Linked DNA regions of Homo sapiens: region 1 is linked to region 2. The links come from fine-mapping of genetic effects on gene expression. A gene starts in region 2. The other region holds a variant in brackets. All regions are shown on one strand. Distances are from middle to middle. Region 1 has its middle 21 kb from the start of PSD2. Region 2 holds the start of PSD2 (pleckstrin and Sec7 domain containing 2).

Region 1 (10,161 bases), 20 kb after region 2:
GCAGTTTCTTAGACAACTAAACATATGCCCACCCTATGATGCAGCATTTCCACTCGAGTCCCCAAGAAAAAATGAAAACATATATTCACACAAAGATTGTACAACAATTTCATAGCAGTTTTGTTTACAATGGTTCCAAACTAGAAACAGCCCAGGTGTCTGTCAAGAAGCAAATGGATTAACAAACTATTACACATCCATACAATGGATTCCTACTCAACAATAAAAAGGAACAAACTACTGATACATGCAACAACAGGACGAAGCTCCAGAACATTATGCTGAATGAAACCAGCCAGGTAAAAAGAGTAGATACTGCATGATTCGATGATTATGACATTCTAGAATGAGCAAAACTAAGCTATGGTGGAAAGAAATCAGAACAATGGGGGCAACCGGGAAACTAGGAAACTTTTTGGAGTGATGGAAATATTCCATATCTTGATAGAGTTGGGCTTATACAAATATATGCATTTGTTAAAACTCAATAAATGGTATACTTAAGATTTGTGCATTTCATTGTATAAAAAATTTTGCCTTCATAGAACAAAGAACCATACACAAGCATTGACCTCTAGTTCATGATAAACATGTTGAAGTGTTTGGGGGTCAAAGTGTACTGATAGCTGTAATTTGCTCTAATATACACTCAAAAAAGATGACTTGATGGGTAAAGGAGGGATGCATAGATAATGACAAGACAAAGATGGCACTAAAATAAATTAGAAAACCCGGGGGGTGGCTACGTAGGTGTTCACTGTAAAATTTGTTCAACTTTTTTGTATGTCTGAAATTTTAACAATAAAATGTGGAGAAGAAGACAGCCAAAAGACCACAAATTGGGTGCAGTGTATACTGCTTAGGTGATGGCTGCACCAAAATCTCACAATCACCACTAAAGAACTGACTCATGTAACCAAACACCACTTGTTCCCCAATAACCTATGGAAATAAAAAAAATTAATAAATAAATTAAAAAACAACTGATGGCTAAGTCCTGGGGAAATCAGCACAGGCCCACAGCTGTCAGCATTTAGGAGGCAAATGCAGCGCACCTTTTGGGAAGCAATTTGTCAACATGCACCAAAAGCCTTAAAAAAGTTTCTGTCCTTTAACCAAATTTTTTCTTTCTTTTTTTTTTTTTTTTTGTTTTTTTTCTTTTTTTGAGACATTGGCTCGCTCTGTCACCCAGGCTGGAGTGCAAGGGCACTATCATGGCTCACTGCAGCCTCGACATCCTGGGTTCAAGCAACCCTCCCACCTCAGCCCCCTGAGTAGCTGCGACTATAGGCACGTGCCACCACACCCAGCTAATTTTTTGCACTTTTTTTTTTGGAGAGATGGGTTTCTGTCAAGTTGCCAGGCTGATCTCAACCTCCTGGGCTCAAGCGATCCTTGGCCTCCCAAAGTGCTAGTATTACAGGCGTAAGCCACCACGCCTGACCCTCATTGCTAGGGATTTATCCTAAGAAAATAAAGATGGATGTGGGCAAAGATATAGCTACAAGGATGTTCATTACAATATTGATTATAATGGCAAAAAGTTGTAAATAACTTAAATGTCCTAAAATAGGGTATTGGTTAAAGAAATTGTGGTGTCTTTATGCACTGGAGTATTATGTCATTAAAATGATGCATCACAAATATTTGCTGAAATGGAAAGATATTCTTTATCTATACAGTTAAGGAGGAAGCAGAGCCTCTGGAGTCACTCTTCTCTTGACTAGAGACCCCATCCCATGACATGGGCTACTCAGTGTACCACTGCCTGTCCCAAGGCTTACAGTTCTTGGGGGGCCTTAATGTCTCCTTATTGTGACTAGCTGTCTTCCTATTTTCATGACATTCTCCACTTCCCACCTGCCTTGTACATCTTGTGTGCACTGTCCCATTTCCCCCTGCACTGTCCCTTGGGAACCACACTTATTCCTTCACACCTCGAGTGCCACTAATTGGGCATACAACTTTGACTGACATTTGCAGTGAAGGCATAACTGGACCTTGTGTAGGACTTTCCTAGGGGGCCAGCACTGAAGCCCTCGCTTCTTCATTCTGAAAGAGGCCCTGCCCATGGGGGCCTGGGTTTGCCTTGTTCCCAGGCTCTAGGAGGAAGGTGGTGGAGACTGAGAGGGAATGGTTGTTGGGAGCCTGTCTGGAGGGCAATGCTTCAGCAAAATGCTCCTACATTTCTTTTTTTATTTGTCTGTTTTTGAGACAGGATCTCCCTCTGTCACCCAGGCTGGAATACAGTGGGGCTATCATGGCTCACTGTAGCCTCAACCTCCTGAGCTCAAGCAATCCTCCCACCTCAGCCTCCCAGGTAGCTGGGAACACAGGTGTGTGCCACCACACGCAGCTAATTTTTGTATTTTTGTAGAGATGAGGTCTGGCCATGTTGCACAGGCTCATCTCGAACTCCAGAGCTCAAGCACTCCACCCACGTCGGCCTCCCAAAGTGCTGGGATTAAGGGCATGAGCCACAGCACCCAGGCTGCTCCCCACATTTCTAGCATGGCCTTTGGAAACTAAATTTTTCTTTATCATCAAAATTATTTTATTCTCTTTGCCCCAATCCTCAGTCTTCCTGAGCAAACCTGTCTTACAACCAAATGACCTTCAAGCTACTAAGTTAGACAGACGTTGCCTTTCTCCCCTACAAGGCCTCCCTCCCACCAGCTTTGAAATAGTCTTGCTTTTGCCTCTCACTTTAATGCACACATTGGCATCTGTTTGCAACAAGAGGCCCCAAGGAGCTAAAAGAGGTCATCTCTGGGTGGTAGGATTGGGGATATTTTTCCCTTGTGCATATTTTTTACTTTCCCTATAACAAACACATATTTTTTTGTGTATTGAGAAAAAGCCACTACAGAAGGGGCCATTGCCAATTAGGGTATACCCAGTGGAGGGTTGCCCAGGAGATGAAGGGCTGAAAAGGTTGTTTATAGGGAACTGGCACCACTTAAGCTGGAGAAAAGGCTGGAATGGGGATGGGAGGACACAGACCTCTCTGCAGCCATCTGGGGCCTGTGTGCAGCAGATGGAGTCACTTGTTCTGTGCTCCACAGAGTGAGCTAGTTCCAACAGCTGGACAGCACAAGAAGGCCAGCTTGGTCTCACTAGAAGAAACTGTCCTACAGTGGAAACTACATGCCTTTTAAGGCAGCTATCTCCCCATCACATAAGGTGTGCAAGCAAGATGGGCAGCCCATTGTCGGGAGGGTTAGAGAGGGGATTTATAGGCTGGCCAGGAGAATGGACTGTGGTTCTTTGAGGTGCCTTAATGAAGCTCACCAGCTACTCAGGAGGCTGAGGAAGGAGGATCACTTGAGCCCAGGAAGTTGAGGCTACAGTGAGCCTTGATCATGCCACTGCACTCCAGCCTGGGTGACAGAACAAGACCCTATCTGGAAAAAAAAAAAAAAAGCAGCTCAGAATGACCTGAGCAAAGTGTCAAGGGAGCTCTGCGACCATGTCTAACATTGGTGAATAGAGGGGATGGTCAGGGAGGACTTCCTGGAGGAGTTCAGAAAACTGACTTTATGGCCCCTCAATCTCCAGCCTCTGGGTACATATCTTATTGACCTCTTTTTCTGGGGTCATCCAGCCGTTTCTGGACAAAAACAAACAAAGCCTCAGCCCCTGCCTTGCTGCAGGATCCTAGATAATTCCCTGCTCCTCTCTGGGCCTCAGGATGCCCTTCTGCTCAATGTTCTCAGCTGAAATTACCCATGATTTTTCCTCCAGGGCAGGCCAAACTGCCAGTCATGCACTTGGGGGAGGGAGGCTGCTGGGTTTTTTAGGGGGACCCTGGTTGTATCCCAGCTTACAGCCCTTGGGACTTGGGCCCGATGCCCAGAGGAGATTCAGCAGAGGTGGCAGGGGTCCCAGAAGCAGGCCAGGGGCTCAGCCAGGCTCCCTGGATACCCCTCCCCAGCCCTCAGCGGCAGGAGGTCAGGAAGGAGACTGGATGTTATCCTGCCGGTGTCGTTACCATGGTGATGGGGTATATATCTGAGCTCTCCCCAGGGCCCCTGAACCCCTCCTCAGGGACCTTGGGGAGGCGTCTTGGAGGGGGATGAGGCAGAGTGTGGTGGGGGCAAACTGAGGTCAGAAGACAGGTGAAGAGGCTGGACTCAGTGGCTCACGCCTGTAATCCCAGCATTTTGGGAGATCGAGGCAGGTGGATCACCTGAAGTCAGGAGTTTGAGACCAGCCTGACCAACATAGCGAAACTCCGTCTCTACTAAAAATACAAAAATTAGCAGGGCGTGGTGGCGCATGCCTATAATTCCAGCGACTTGGGAGGCTGAGGCAGGAGAATCGCTTGAACCTCGGAGACGGAGGTTGCAGTGAGCTGAGATCGTGCCATTGCACTCCAGCCTGGGCGATAAGAGCTCTCTCTCACAAAAAAAGGAAGAAGAAAGGAGAAGGAGAAGACAGGCGAAGAAACTCCCTCCCCTGCAGATGAGTTCATTTAGGGTGGGGCACTGGGTAGCGCACAGGCTGGGGGGTCAGGCGGGCCTGGTCTGAATTCCCCTGCTGAGTGATCTTGGGTAAGTGGCTCTACGTCTCTGGGCCTGTGAGGATGTTGGTATGACGATTAAATGAGACGCCACTGGGATGGTGATGAGCTCATGACTTTATTTTCTCCTCACACGCACAGACACTTGTAGGCAGAAACTGAGCCAAACCGAGAGTGCCGCAGATGGGCGCCCCTGACCTTCCCGCTGCTCCAAGCTCCCCACTCGGCCTCGCGCGCCCTCCCTCCTCTCATAGCTCGGCGTCCTCGCCCGCCCCCGCGCGGCCCTCCCAGGTACTGCAGCAGCCCCCGCCACTCCCGGAGACAGTGCCCCAACACTCCTGCGTCCCCTGCTGCCTTGCAAAGATAGGGTGTGGAGTAATCTGACCTCAGTGCC[T/G]CAAGGCCTTGTCTCCAAACCTTCGAAGTGTTGGCTGTTCTTCTTGGAGTCTAGCCTCACCTCCTGGGTATGGGTTCCAGATCCATCTTGCTGATCCCAGACTGGTGGTGGGCGCCAGAAGCAACCTTGGCTGGGGCGGCCAATGGCACTGCAGGCAGGAGGGCGGCGGCACAGTACGGTCTCGATAGAGGTCAAATCATGATCTGGGCTCCTGGTGATGTCCAGGAACACACTCCACGCCTCCATGTGCACACATCCACAAGCACCACACTCCCATGGTGGACACAGCAACATCACTACCCAATCAGGCCCCGTCCCTCCCCTGTGCCCTGCGGACCCCGAGGAAAGCGGTGCTTACTCTAAATTGCAAATAGAAAGCCTTTCCCGGGGCCGGGCGCAGTGGCTCACGCCTGTAATCCTGGCACTTTGGGAGGCCGAGGTGGGCGGATCACGAGGTCAGGAGTTCCAGACCAGCCTGACCAACATGGTGAAACCCCGTCTCTACTAAAAAATACAAAAATTAGCCGGGCGTGGTGGTGGGCTCCTGTAATCCCAGCTACTCAGGAGGTTAAGGCAGGAGAATCGCTTGAACTCAGGAGGCAGACGTTGCAGTGAGCCGAGATCGTGCCACTGCACTCCAGCCTGGGTGACAGAGCAAGACTCCATCTCCAGAAAAGAAAAGAAAAGCAAGAAAGCCTTTCCAGGGCCCACAGCCCTGCATCGGCCAGCCCTGCCCACCTCTTAAACCACCTCTTCCCCCATTCCCCCTGCCCATTATTCACTATTTTCCAGCAAAAATACGCAGTGCTCACTCCACACTTCAGGTCCTGTGCACTTACTGTTCCCTCTCCCTGAACCTCCACTCCTTATCCCAGATCCACCACTGGCTGCTTTCTTCCCTTCTTTTAGGCTTCAGTTCAAATACCACCTCCCCAAAGAGTCCTTTGAGACCACTGAAGCTAAGAGGCTCCCCACCCTCCATTCCTGAAAAACATGCTTCCTGCCTAATGTGTAATCTAATCATTAGGACAATGCACATCAAAAAAAAAACGAGACCGAGTGCTGCGGCTCACGCCTCTAATCCCACACTTTAGGAGGCTGAGGTGGGAGGATCACCTGAGTCTAGAAGTTCAAGGCTGCAGTGAGCTATGATGTAAACCCTTGGGACATTGAGGGACAATGTCCCTCAATGTCATTGGGACATTACATCAAGGGACATTGAAACCCTTGTCCCTTGTGCACTGTTGGTAGGAATATAAAAGGGTTCAGCCAGTATGCAAAATAGTATGGTGGTTCCTCAAACAATTAAAAATAAAATTATATGATCCACCAATTCCCCCATCTGGATATATTCCCAAAAGCATTGAAACAAGAACTCGAAGATATGCTTATACCCCTACATTCATAACAGCATCATTCACAACAGCCAAGCGGTGGCAGCCACCCAAGAACCCATCAGCAGGTGAATGGTGGTCTATCCACACAGTGGAGTACTACTCAGCCTTAAAAAGGAAAGAATTATGACATAGACAATATGAGTGAGCCTCAAAGGCACTATGCTGATGAAATAAGCCAGTCACAGAAGGACAAATATGGTATGATTCCATTTATATGATGTACCTAGGGTAGTCAAATTCATAGAGACAGAAAGTAAAATGGGAGGCCAAGATGGGAGAACTGCTTGAGGTCAGGAGTTCAAGACCAGCCTGGGCAACATAGCAAGACTCTGTCTCTAGAAAAAAATGAAAAAAAGCAGGGTGTGGTGGTGTGTGCCTGTAGTCCCAGCTATCAAGAGGCTGAGGCAGGAGGATTCCTTGAGCCCAGGAATTCAAGGCTGCAGTGAGCTATGATTGTGCCACTGCACTCCAGCCCGGGTGACAAAAGCGAGACCCAATCTAAAAAAAGGAAGAAAGGAAGGAAGGTAGGAAGAAAGGAAGGTAGGTGGTTGCAGGGGTGGAGGGTGCTGGGAAAGGAGGTGGGGGAGTTACTGTTTTAATGAGTTCAGAGTTTCAGTTTTGCGAGATGAATGACTTCCAAAGATGGATGGTGGTGACGGTTGCACAATAATGTGAATGTATTTAATGTCACTGAACTGTATACTTAAAAAAGGTTAAGATGATAAATTTTGTTATGTATATTTTACCGTAAATAAAAAAATATGTATCAAAACATTTCTTTGCTTTTTCAATCCTGCCTCATTCATTAAACTGTGACCTCCATAAGAACAGTACCTGTATCTGCCTGGTGCACCTACTGTGTGTTGCTAGTCACTGAAGACTTGGGGACCAAGACAGACAAGGTGCCCACTCACCTGGAGCTCACAGCCTGCGGGGAGGGGAAAAAGATACTGAACAAACAAATAAACAAGAATATTATCACCTATTACCTGCTGTGCAGAAAATTAAAAAGTGAAATGTAACAGAGTGGCTGCATGAGGAGGAGTTTCAACTGGAGCAGTCAGGCATACCATCCCAGAGGAGGTGACATTTGTGCAAAGACCCAAGGAATGATCAAGAGTCAGTCATCAAGCATCCAGGAGACCTGAGCTGCAGACAGAAGAAACAGCAAGTGCAAAGGCCCTGTGCTGGGCATGAGTGTGGCATGCTAGAGGAACAGCAGAGAGAAAAGGAGGGGACGAGGAGGAGAGATGAAAGAAGGAGGCCCTGGGACAGGGAGAAGGAGAGGGGACAGAAGGTGTTCCTGGTCGCAGAGCAGGGAGGCCTCACTGGATCACCAACCTCCTCTTCACAGCAGGGGAGGAGGGGCTCCATGAACCGAGACCTCTAAGTGCCCAGCTCTGCACCAAATGCTTTTTACAGATCGGCTCGGAGAATGCTCTCAACAGTCCTTGGGGCAGGTATAGTCATTAGCCACAATATAAAGAAGGAAACAGGCTCAGAGAACTTGGCTGAGCTGCTGGGTCTGGGACTAGAGTCAAAGTCATAGAGCGGGAGGAGGGATCTAATGCCCCCTGTGCTGCCTTCAAGGACCCAGTCTGGGGACGCTTTTTCCTCCCACCCAGCTGCCCTTCCACTCCCACTCCCACTCCCTCTGCCTCTAGGGAGAGGGCCTCGCACAGGAGGCCTGGCTGCTAACTGATCCCTGCCAAGGGCTTTCCGTTCCTCCTCTCATTGTCCCCTAAGAGCAAGCCAAGGAGAGAACCCACTACCTCTCCCTCACCTGGCTGGGGAAGGGTGCTGGGAGCGAGGAGACAGAAGCCCATCTCCAGTCCCGCAACACCGTTTCTGAGGCCCCTCTGCAGGCCCTGCCCTTGGAAGGGGTTGGACCGTGGTCCTTGGATGGCAGCCCAGTGGTCAGTGAAGATGCCCCCCAAGGCCAGGGGCAACAGCATCTTGAAGTCTGAGAGAACTTACTTCCCCATATGCGCTACACTGCCCCAGACCCTAAATAGCCTGTGGCACACCAGGGAGAGAGCCAGACTCCAGGGACAGCCAGACCTTGCACCAGCTGGGAAGAATGTTATAGAAAGGAAAGCAGGCTGCGGGGCGCGGTGGCTCAAGACTGTAATCCCAGCACTTTGGGAGGCCGAGGTGGGCGGATCACGAGGTCAGGAAATCGAGACCATCCTAGTTAACACGGTGAAACCCCATCTCTACTAAAAATACAAAAAATTAGCCGGGCGTGGTGGCGGGCGCCTGTAGTCCCAGCTACTCGGGAGGCTGAGGCAGGAGAATGGCGTGAACCCAGGAGGCGGAGCTTGCAGTGAGCCGAGATTGTGCCACTGCACTCCAGCCTGGGCGACAGAGTGAGACTCCATCTCAAAAAAAAAGAAAAGAAAAGAAAAGAAAGCAGGCCTGCTTCCTGCCTGCACTCCTGCGCTCAGGCTATTCAGGGCCTTACCCACCACGGCGGCTCCACCACAGAGGGAGTGCCCAGGGGTGGGGCAGCCCCGGGTCCCCAGGCCCGCAATTCCTCACCCTAAAATAGAGACTCCGCCACCCGGGCCAGTCACAACATGGGACCCAGCACAAAATGAAAATGTGGAGCTTCTTGTTCAAAAAGCAGGAGGGAAATGCCTAATAATAAAGGCGCTAAAATATAAAAGTATCTATGTATCTGTACCTAGAGATATATAAAGCTTCGCTTCTTTTCTGTTGGTCTGCCTCTAGATTTGTCATGAGTTTGTATTTGTTAAATATCATTTTAAGTAAAGAAAAATGAAAAATCTAAATGACTAGCATGAATTTTACTATTCATCTTTCTATTGTGCAATGTCAGTTTTAAATGCAAATATAAGGGTGTTTAACTCATATGCAGAATCATCAAAATCGTATAATTTGTATTCAGTACCTTGTGCACACATGTGTATTTCATCTTACCTGAAATGGTGGGAAAGGGCACAAAACTTACTCAACTGTTTTCATTTCTTTTCTTGACTTATGCACATTCTCTCAACATGCTCTGCTTTTAGCTTATGATGTGTGAGGAGGGGCTGAAAGGAAAGGAACTACAGGTTGCCTGATCTGTCCCTGTCCTAGCTCATCATGATTAGTGTCAGCGGTTGGCTTATCCAGCGAAATAACATGAGGAAGAAGGCTATAGCAGGGTTCCTGGGCCATTCATGTTTTTTTGTTTGTTTGTTTGTTTTTTTGACACGGAGTCTCGCTCTGTTGCCCAGGCTGGAGTGTAGTGCCGCGATCTCAGCTCTCTGCAACCTCCGACTCCCCAGTTCAAGCAATTCTCCTAATTCTCCTGCCTCAGCCTCCTGAGCAGCTGGGATTATAGTCCGCCTGCCACCACGACCAGCTAATTTTTGTATTTTAGTAGAGATGGGGTTTCACCATGTTGGCCAGGCTGGTCTCGAGCTCCTGACCTCAGGAGATCCACCTGCCTCAGCTCCCCAAAGTGCTGGGATTACAGGCGTGAGTCACCAAGACAGGCCCTGTTCATGTTTCTTAGCACACAATTGCCTTCTTCTTGCATCTGGCAAGTTCTGGTTGAAATGGATGGTGAGGTCCCTCAGGGCTGTCAGCGTTCCTCTTACTCAGTTGTAGACATAACAAGCTTACCTTACACTCACTTTGAGTCTTGCTGAGCCCCCACATGTGGTGGGGTCATCAGAATCCTGTGCTCACGGGCATCACCAGCACTGCATGCACACAGGAGCCCCAGCCGGCCCGCATGACACCCAGGTTCTACCTCTCTGTGTACCGCATGCTCCACTGTCCCACTGGACCCCACTTACAAAACACAAGTTCAAAGATGAAATTATGAGACATTTCAA
Region 2 (10,161 bases):
AAGTGAGAACAGTCAGGGCAGTTGTTTTGCTCAGCCCCATTCAGCTGCATGTGCAGGAGTGGGGTAGGCCAGGCATTGGATTTAACCAGGGTTGGGGTTTTGCCAAGAAAGTGTGAAGAAGCAAAATGAGGTAAGGGAATTGGGGTCTGCAAGTTAGTGGCAGGATTATCCTGGCTTCCACAGGGGCAGCTGCCATCTGAGCTGGCCTAGCCCTGCTCAGGGCCCTCCCCTGCTGGTGCCTGAAGCCCACCATCCATCCCCTGCAGTGGGCTATGTGTGGCTCTTCTTTCTGCCTGCATCTCAAAATGAGCTTCTGCAAGGGGGCCACAGTTGGGGCCACCAAATGAGCTTCCCACACACCATTCCTCTGGCCTGGAAAACACCTCAGACCTCATACACTCAAAACCTCCATCTCCCTTCCCAAGCCATTGCACAAGCTCATCCTTCCCACTCTCCCTATCTCTAGTCAGACACAAGGGCCTGTCCGTTCTGCTTCCTAAATCTCTCCCAGCTCCATCCCCTTCTCCGATACCCCCCAGCAACACCCTCCCAGCAGGGCCCCCAAACCACACAACTCCACTCTCTCTATATGCCACAAGCAGCAGCCCCAATGCTGTCCCCCCTGTCTTGTGCTGGGTGCTGCCACAGCCTCCTGGCTGGTCTCTTTCCCATGTGCTGGCCCAGTCAGCCCCACTCCATCCTCCTCAGAGTGCCTTTCCAACACTCCAAACTGCCTCATCATCCCCTCTTCAAAACCCTTCAGTGGTTTTGAAGTGCCCTTGGGGAAAAGGCCAACCCCTCAGCCCACATTCCAGGCTAGCTGTGGCCTGGGCCTCCCTTCCTGTCTGGCCCCCATGCCCTCTCCCCTTGCTGTGCCTCTCACTACTTTCTCTGGGCTTCCCCTCTCCCCCACCAACAGCACCTGTCTGAGTTGTGGCTCCCCCACTCCCAACCCTGAAGTTTTGAGCTCCCTGAAAGTTTCTGTCTGCTTCTCTATTCTCCAGCATCTGGTCTGATGTAGGGGTTCAGTCAGATTTGCTGACCTGGTGCGCAGATTACCAGGTAGATGAAGCTTCTGGAGGTAGGGAAGGGGGAGGAACAGAATTGAAATACAGGGACCCCTGAGCCAAGTGACCTAACTTACCACCACCTACTACAGGACAAACTAATAACAGGTGCCTGCCAATATCATGCACTGAGAAGGACATGACATCATCTATGAGATATTCTTGCCCCAAAATGGTTAACTTGACTCTAATCACAAGCAAGCAAGAAGACAAATCCAGGATGTGAGACGTATCACAAGCCTTCCAAATTGACAATGTCATTAAAAAAAATCTCAAAAAAGCCAGGGATTCATCCAGATTGAAACACTAAAGAGCCATAATAACTAAATGCAATGTATGTTCCATGATCAAATTAAAAAAAACAGCTATAAAGGACTTTACTGAGACAACTAGAGAAATTTAAATATGGACTACATGTTAGGTTAAACTGGATGATTACTAAACTTCTTGGGTATGATAACAATGCATTATTTTTGTAGAAAAATGTCCCTGTCTCAGGAAATTCATGCTGAAGTATTTAGAGGTGAAGTGTTATAATGTTGGCAACTTACTTTCAAAAGATTGAGAGAGAGAGAGAAAGAGAGAGAGAGAGAAACAAATGTGGCAAAATGTTAACAACTGGCAAATCTAGGTCTCTAGGTGAAGGGTATGTAGGTGGGTGTTCACTATACTATCAGCTTTGACAAGATAAAAAGTAAGGTGGGAGAAGGAAGGGAGTGGAGGGAGACGTTCCAAAGAGGGGAGCTCAGGGGTTGGAATTTTGGGGCAGGAGTCAGAGGAGAGGACATTCCTTCCCCAGGGCAGTCCACAAACCTGAGCATGCAGAGCTGTGGGCCAGCCCACAGGCCAGCCCAGGCCAGGCAGGCACAGCGCTGGAGTGGCTTACCACCTGAAAAGGGGGCCAGACCCTGAGGAAACGGACTCACCTGTGGGCAAGCCGGCTTAGAGGGACAAGGAAAACAAGCTGGTCCCAGGGAGACCAGGGCAGGAACATGGGCCCCTCCCCCTCCATTGAGCTGTGGCAAGGAGCCAGGTCTGGCCCCAAGCCCACCCAACTCCCCCAAACACCCCTCAAGGGGCGACAGCCTAAGTGTATCCTCCTGTTTGGAGAGCCAGTCTAAATACGGAGCCTCAGACATAAGATGCCGCTCAAAACAGATTTTCCTGGAAAAGACCATCTGGCAAAGGAGGTCTAGAGCATCGTCTGTTGTGAGAGGCAGTGTTGATCTCCTGCAAGCCAACGTCCGGAATGGGAATGCCTTGATCCCACCTCCCTAGGAAACTACAGCTTAGTGCTTGTTTTTCCCAAGGTCACCCTCTTGCCCAGATGGAGAGACACTCTATCCCACCTCCCACCTCTCTCCTAAATTGTGTCTCCAGGGAAGAAGAGGAGAGGATGGGGACACAGGTCTGAGTATCAGACAGTTCTGGCCAAGTGCAAATCCTCACTCTGCCACTTACTAACCAGGAGACTTTGAACAAACAGCTCTACCACAAAATGGGAATAAGGGTAGTGCCTCCCTCTAAAGACTGTTATGAGGGTACTTAGCACATATGCTCCATATGTGGAAGCTAGGTGAGGTAATACCCCCCAGCCACACTCTCTCTCTCAGTCCTGTCTAGAGCAGGAAGTCATTCCTTCCAGCTATCTTTGCTCTCTCCCTTCAGGGAAGACCCTGGGAGGCACTATTTGTCAGGTCTGCTTGTGGAGCGTGCACCCCATAGTTGTCAGACCAGGACAAGCTGCAGCGGGGAGGCCTCTGGGGGCATCCCTGGGCTGCAGGGTGCAATTCACCCAAGCATTGAGACTTCAACCTTGCAAGAGGCACCAGTGAGGGAGGCCTTCCAAGGACAACCCAGTCATCCTCCTTTAGCTGGGCCACACCCACCTACTCACCCCACTGCGTGGGAATCTTTTGGGGGCTCTGGCCAAACCCTAGGGACCTGCTATGTTTCCACCAGGACCAAACTTTGCAGTAGCCCCACTCAAAAGCCCCTGTTCCCTGCTTCCCGCATATATTGGGGAAAGGGGCTGCTGGGAGGACAGCAGGCACATTTTACTGATTCGGAGATCCCAGGCCCCAGAACTTGTAGCTTCCCTGGGAGACAGGTTCCTAAAGTCCTGGGGAGAGGGTGGAAGAATGAAAGAACGACTGCAACTGCCCTGGGCCACGGGTTGGGTTTGGAGGCAGTCCCAGCCCAGTGAACCCCCCCACCCCCAACCACTATTAAGCAGCTCTTGTTTGTAGGATCTAGAAAAAGGAACTGGGGAACCCAGGAAAGTCCAAACCCAGGCTGCCCACCTGCCCTGGCCAAATCCTGAGCCCTCTCGCTGATCCCCATCAAATTCAGCCTGGCTTATCCCCAGGCTGCCAGGAGTCTTAGGCCCTCTTCCATTGTGACTGCTGCTTCTGCTCCCTGTTCTCTTCCTGGCCCCCCCAAGATGGCCCCAAGACAAAGGGGTGGGCTTGAGACAGTGGCCCCCTGGGCCTATGCAAAAACAATGCCCCCAGTGATCATTCCGGGGAGTCCCTGCATCCTCTAGGAACAGCTGAATACCTCCTCCTCCGAGGGGGCCCGCTGGGCAGGGTTGTCCCCAGTCTGGACTCCCTCTGCACCCAGCCCCAGCAGCCCGCTCCTGGGACCCCTCCCTCCCGCTGCCGCCTCGGCCATTATGTGCCTCCTCAGCCCTGACTGCCACGCCCCCGTGCGAGCCCCCGCTCTAGCTGCAGAGCCGGGGAGGCCTGGCCGCCAAGCAGGGCTGTCAAAGTTGGGAAACTGGAAACAGAAATAAATCCTCAAAGCTGCAGCCTCGTGAAGGTGGCTGCCGGCAGGCCCCGGTACCCAATGCCCCGATCCCCGACCACCAGGCTGCCACTGGCACCCCCCACGCACACGCGTACCCCCAGATTATACAAAAGCGGGGAGAGGGTAGTGGGTGGCGGAGCCGGGAGACAATCGGCCCGGCAGCCCCCACCGTCCCTCAGGCTGGGCTCGGGCTTTCCCGCGGCGCCCCCTCTCCCCGGCCCAGACCCGGCCAGCCCGGGCTTCCTCTCTCGGCCCCATCTCCATGACAACCGTATCCTTCGGATGCTCCAGACGCCGCGGAATTGATCTGGAAATGTAGCTTTGTTAGCGGACCCGGGTGGGCACCGAGGGCGAGGGCGACGCCCCCCACCCGCACGCGGCCCTCTCCCCGGCCCGTCCCGCCCCGGCCTGGCCGCCAGCGGGGAGGGGCGGGTCCCGGAGCCCCGCGGCCCCACTCACCGCTGCTGGTCCCCGCCGCGGGTCCGGCCTCTCACGGCGGGGCCATCGGAGGCCGCCGGGCTGCCTGTCCCGCCCCGCCGCCGCCGGTCGGAGCTGCCCGCGCCCGCCCGCGTCCCTTCAGGTGCCGGAGCCGCGATGTGGAGAGGCTGAGCGAGGGGGACGGACGGCAGGAGGGAGGGAGCGGAGCCGTGAGCTGGAGGAGGAGGAGGAGGGAGGAGCGGGAAGGGCGGGGAAGGGCGGGGGCACTGCGGGCGCGCGAGCGGCGGGCGCGGAGCCCGGAGGGAAGCGCGGCCCCCAGCCCTGTCCGCTTGCAGCGCAGCGCTCGCCCCGGGACCCCGAGCGTGCCGGGGAGAGCGCGGCCCACCTTGTCCCCCTCTGCCCCGCGCGGGCCCTTTAAGAAAGGGGGGGAGGGGAGCGCCCGGGGTTCTGCCCCCTCCTAGCCACGCTGGGCCCCTGCCGTCCTCGAACCCTCGGGCAGACCCAACCACCTCCGCCCTCCAGGCAGGACCCACCGGTCTAGAACCTGAGCTCTCGGGACCCGCCAGGCCCTGGAGGTGAAGGAGGGGGCGGGTCCTGGCCCTCCTCCCGCGGTCTGTTCAGGGAGTGACCCCTGCCCCCAGCCCCCCGACACACACGCCAGCCCCCGGGAGACGCCGCCAAGGGAGGAGCAGGGAGTGCGGGGGGCCAAGGTGAAGAATCTCAGAGAGGGAGACTGAGCCCCTGAGACCTAGAGTCACACGGGACGGGACGGAGACCTGGGCTGTGGGGTGAGAAGGAGCCTCGGGACAGAGTGGGATGGGAGGAGGCAGGAGAGAGGAGAAAGAGACAAAGGAGAAAGAACCTGAGGGAGGCGGGAGGTGAGGGGTGGGTCCAACCAAGAATCCACATCCCTGTGCCAGGTCAAGGGGAAGCCTCCCTGGGCAGATATAAGGAGACAGAGAGAGACAGAGGGTGCCCTGGGCAGAGGAAACCATCTCCCAAGGCACCTGTCCCACGGTGTCTCCCCAAGGGCAAGTCAAGGCCCTGAAGCCGCCCCCCTCAGCCCAGGACTCTAACTGAAGAAGAGGGTTGACTGGCTGTACCTGGGCTAGACATTAAGAACTTCCTGGCTGTGAGGCACCTGCAGAGTAAGAGTCCGCCTCTCAGAGAGGCATTAAAGGGCCCCCACCCACAGGGATCTAAGGAGGGCGTGGGGAGCAGGCCCAGTGCCTGGGAGAAGGGAAATCAGGATAGAGTCAGGCCCTGCCACTGGAGGCCACTTTCTACCCCTCTCCCCTACTCCAGCCCCTGGGGGGTTCACCACACCCAGTTGCTTCCATCTCCAGACCTCAGCAGATGATCCACACTCTGCCCGGTGGGGCCTTGATCCTGCTGTGCTCAGTGAACTCCTACTGAACCCTCAAATTCCTCCTTAAATGCCCCTTCCTTCATGAAGTCTTCTCTGACCTTCTTTCCACCCATGAACACACAAACATGGACTCTTCTTAGGGAGCAGGAAGAGGATTTGCTGACCTCTTAGGGTGGCAGTAATTGGAGGTGTGGAATCTGAGCTGTGCGTAGTCTCCCTCCCTTCAAGCTGGGCAACAGCAGGAGCTGGGACTTCATCAACCATGGTGACACCTCTGACAACCAAGCATCTACCAAGTGCTCTTCATGTGTCATATTTAATTCTCAAAACAATCCTACAACCCGTTTTACAGATGAGAAAACTGAGACTTGGAGAGCATAAGTCACTTGCTCATGATCCCAGGAGATCTGAATCTGTGAGCACAGCTGGTCAATTAAGAGGGCACTCAGACCACATCCTTCACTGCCCATCAAACCCTAGGACATTACCGCAGAGCCCAGAAACAAGGGAGCCACTCTCTGTGCAGGTGCCCAGGATCTTAAAGGGCACAGAGGGAGCTTGGCTTCCCTGCTGTCCTGCATTCTACCCCCCTGCCCTCTGCTACCTGTAGGCAGAGAAGGGTGGCGACCAGCAGGGGCTGTGGAGGGAAGTGCTCATGGCAGGGCTTAGATACCACATTCCCCACCCTTGGCACCCATGCCCTCAAGTCACAGCTGGACCACCTTTCTGGGCTCCTACTTCCTCATCTGCCCAATGAGGATGGTAGCAGTCCCCCTCTTTGTGAGGCTAGGATGGGGACCGAAAGAGCTGATGTGCTCAAGACCTGGCACACAGATGCACTCAATGGGCCATGGCTGTTCCAGCTGTAATGATTACTTACTCATGGAATGCACTATTTAATTGTTGTCCACTGGATGGACTCTGAGCCCCTTGAAAGGGTTCACAGTGTATCCTCAGCACCTAACACTCAGCATGGCTTAATAAATTATGTGGAAGGAAAGAACAGGGAAAGGGGAAAGGTAGACATAGCTGTCTCTCCAGCTAACTTGCGCTGGGCTGGCACACAGAACCTAGTCTCTGCCCCCTGGATCTGCCCCCTGTCCTTTGTAGCTCTGGGAGCCTGTGGCAGGGGCAAGGAGACCCGGGTTCTAGTCCAGTCCCCCCAACCCACACTTCCTAGCTGTGTGGCTATGGGCAGCTGTACCCTTTCCTGAACCTTCCTTTCCCCTCCGTCAAGTGGAACTAGCTCCCTAGGGCTCAGAGGGCTGCCTGGAGGCCACAGGTGAGCTCTGTGTGAGTGTTCTGGGTGCCATGGACACTGGAGAGGGGAGTATTGTTACTGTTCCTTGTGGCTACCTTCGCCTCCTGAAAGACAGCAGGGTCAGGCTGGGAATGGTGGCTCACGCCTGTAATCCCAACACTTTGGGAGGCCAAAGTGGGTTGGATCACTTGAGGTCAAGAGCTCGAGACCAGCCTGGCCAACACAGTGAAACCCCCCTCTCTACTAAAAATACAAAAATTAGCCGGGTGTGGTGATGCACACCTGTAATCCCAGCTACTCCGGAGGCAAGAGAATCACTGGAACCCAGGATGCAGAGGTTGCAGTGAGCCAAGATCGTGCCACTACATTCCAGCCTGGGCAACAGAGCAAGACTCAGTCAAAAGAAGAAGGAAAGAAGAAAGAAAGACAGAAAGAAAGAAAGAAAAAAGAAAGAAAGAAGGAAGGAAGGAAGGAAGGAAGGAAGGAAGGAAGGAAGGAAGGAAGGAAAGACAGAAAGAAAAAAAGAAAGAAAGGAAGGAAGGAAGGGAAGGAAGGAAAAGAGAGAGAGAAAGAGAGGGAGGGAGGGAGGAAGGAAGGAAGGGAGAAAGAGAAAGAAAGAAAGAAAAAAGAAAGAGAGAAAGAAAAGAAAAGAAAGAAAGAGAAAGAAAGACAGCAGGGTCAACATCCCCCTACCCAGGAGCCAGAATAGACGATATTTCCCCCATTCCTCAAGGGAAAGAAGAATGCGCAGCTTCTCCCTGTTCCTCCAAGTGACCTCCCTTTCCTCCCCCACCCCGCCTCCTCACCTGAGGGGGTCTCATAAGAAGCAGGTGCCAAGGCTGAACCAAAGACCCTTGCACATGGAGGGGCCTTTTCCCATGGTTTACCGCCTGGCCCTTGACTGGTCCCCAGGAGAGCATGAAAGTTATGGGGGGAGGGGGGGCCAGCTGCATTGGGCATGGTCAGCACCTTGGGCAGGGACAGAGGGACCCACCAATTGGGAGGACTCATTTGGGTCCAACCCAGAAGAGGCTTGACTCAGAGGACCCCTAAAACACCCAATTCTCCCATCTTCCAGCTGGAAGCCTGAGGCCCAGGTGGGGTGCCTGGGTAGGGATTCCCCAGGCCAATCCCAGAGAGCTCAATAAGCACCTACTGTGTTCACAGCTTTGTTGTAACCTGCCCCTGTCCCCAGCACCCCCACGACCCCAAGATGAAGGCCCCAATTCACCTATTCTATGTCCCCTCTCCTGACACTTCCCACCTCAAATTTGATGTCCTAGGACCCCTCCCACACTCATTCCCCCTCAACCATTTCTAGTGACCTCCCTTTGCTTAGGCAGGCTCTCTGCCTGGGATGCCTTCCCCTTCACGCACTCTCATTTGGCTAATTCCTCTCCACTCCCCAGCTACCATCCCATTTCTCTTTACCTATTACAGCAAAGCTCCTTGAAAAAGTTGTCCATGCTGGCTGTCTCTAATTCCTGTCTCTCAAAGGAACTCCAGTCTAGCTCTTATCTCCCTGTACAGTCCACTGACACCACTCATCAAAGTCACCAACACAGTTGCTGAGTACAGATGTGCAGGCTGGGCACTGCACAAGGGTGCTGGGTTACATGAAGGATGGAGAGGTAGCTAAAACCCAACCTGTTCTCCTTTCACCATGCTGTGTGTCCTGATGCAAGGTTGTATCTGTCAGGGGAAGAGATGCCTTTTTCTTTCTCTTTTTTTTTTGTTTTTTGTTTTTTGTTTTCTGAGAGAGGGTCTCAGGCCAGCATAGTGCAGTGGCACAATCATGGCTCGCTGCAACCTGAGTACAGTGTTAGCTGTGGGTTTTTCATAAATGCCCTTTATCATGTTGAGTTCATTCCCTTCTATTCCTAGTTTGTTGAGTGGGTTTCTTTTTGTTTTTGGTTTTGTTTTGTTTTGTTTTTTGTTTTTCTTTTAGAGACAGGAATACCCAGGCTGGAGTGCAGTGGCATGATCTCAGATCAGTGCAGCCTTGACTTCCCAGGCTCAAGCGATCCTCCCATCTCAGCCTCCCCAGTAGCTAGGACTACAGGCATGCACCACTATACCCAGCTAATTTTTATATTTTTTGTAGAGATGGAGTTTCGCCATGTTGCCCAGGCTGGTCTTGACTTCCTGGGCTCAAGTGATCCTCCTGCCTTGGCTTCCCAAAGTGCTAGGATTACAGGTGTGAGCCACTGTGCAGAGTGCCTTTTTCTTTACAGCAAGGTATCCACCTTCTGTTTGCCTGTGTAGCCAGGTCCACCTGGAATGGCCACCATTTTCTTTTCTTTTTTTATTTTTTTGAGATGAAGTTTCACTTTTGTTGCCCAGGCTGTAGTGCAATGGTGCAATCTCGGTTCACTGCACCCCCCACCTCCTGGGTTCAAGCGATTTTCCTGCTTCGGTCTCCCGAGTAGCTGGGATTATAGGCGCTCCCCCCCACCCAACCACCACACCCAGCTAATTTTTTGTATTTTTAGTAGAGACAGGGTTTCATCATGTTGGCCAGGCTGGTCTTGAACAACTGACCTCAGGACACCCACCTCAGCCTCCCAAAGAGCTGGGATTACAAGCATGAACCACAGCACCCGGCCATGGCCACCATTTTCTAAAGTTTGTACATGGTGCTAGACTGTGGCCTAGTCCTCAGTGACTGCCACAATGCTAAATCCAAAAGTCCATTCACAGGCCTGGTCTTAGCTTCCTGACAGCATCTGACACCGTTCATCCCCGCTTCCTCCTTGACATACTTTCTTCCCTTGACTTCCAGGACTCCTCACTGTCATGTTTTTCCTCCTGCCTCTCTGGCTGCACCTTCTCATCTTCCTTTGCTAGTTTCTCCGCCCCTCTCTGACCTCCAATGCCAGAGCTCCCAGGGCTCAGTCCTCGGTCTTCTCCATCTCACTCTTTCCCATGATGACCCCAGCCCAGCTTCAAAGCCCAGCTAAACCCTGAAGCTTCTCGGTGTGTGATTCTCCAACCTGGACCTTTCCACCTGAGGTCAGACCCCAACACCCAAGTGCTGACCTGAAGTTGCCACTAGGATATCCAAAGAGCAGTTCCATCTTAACCCAACCCACACTGACCTCCTCTTCCTCTTTGCCGTAAACATCACGACCACAAGGCCAGCCTGGTCTCGAATTCCTGGGCTCAAGTGATCCTCCTGCCACAGCCTCCCAAAGTGCTGGGATTACAGGCGCGAGCTC

What was found. PIP is the estimated chance that this variant, and not a neighbour inherited with it, causes the effect.
Region 1: its variant is fine-mapped to the expression of PSD2 in whole blood (TOPMed, PIP above 0.99).

Annotation. Positions count from the first base shown.
Region 1 is chr5:139,769,933-139,780,093 of GRCh38, reverse strand. It overlaps a transcript of PSD2 not described here. Among named protein-coding and RNA genes, the nearest start is that of PSD2, 21 kb to the left of the region's middle. The variant T/G (reference allele first, on the strand shown) is at 4,917.
Region 2 is chr5:139,790,149-139,800,309 of GRCh38, reverse strand. It overlaps PSD2 (pleckstrin and Sec7 domain containing 2), which reads right to left and starts at 4,502. Exons shown (of 15, transcript NM_032289.4): 1 at 4,335-4,502. RefSeq lists a silencer at 4,784-4,983 and an enhancer at 9,768-10,161.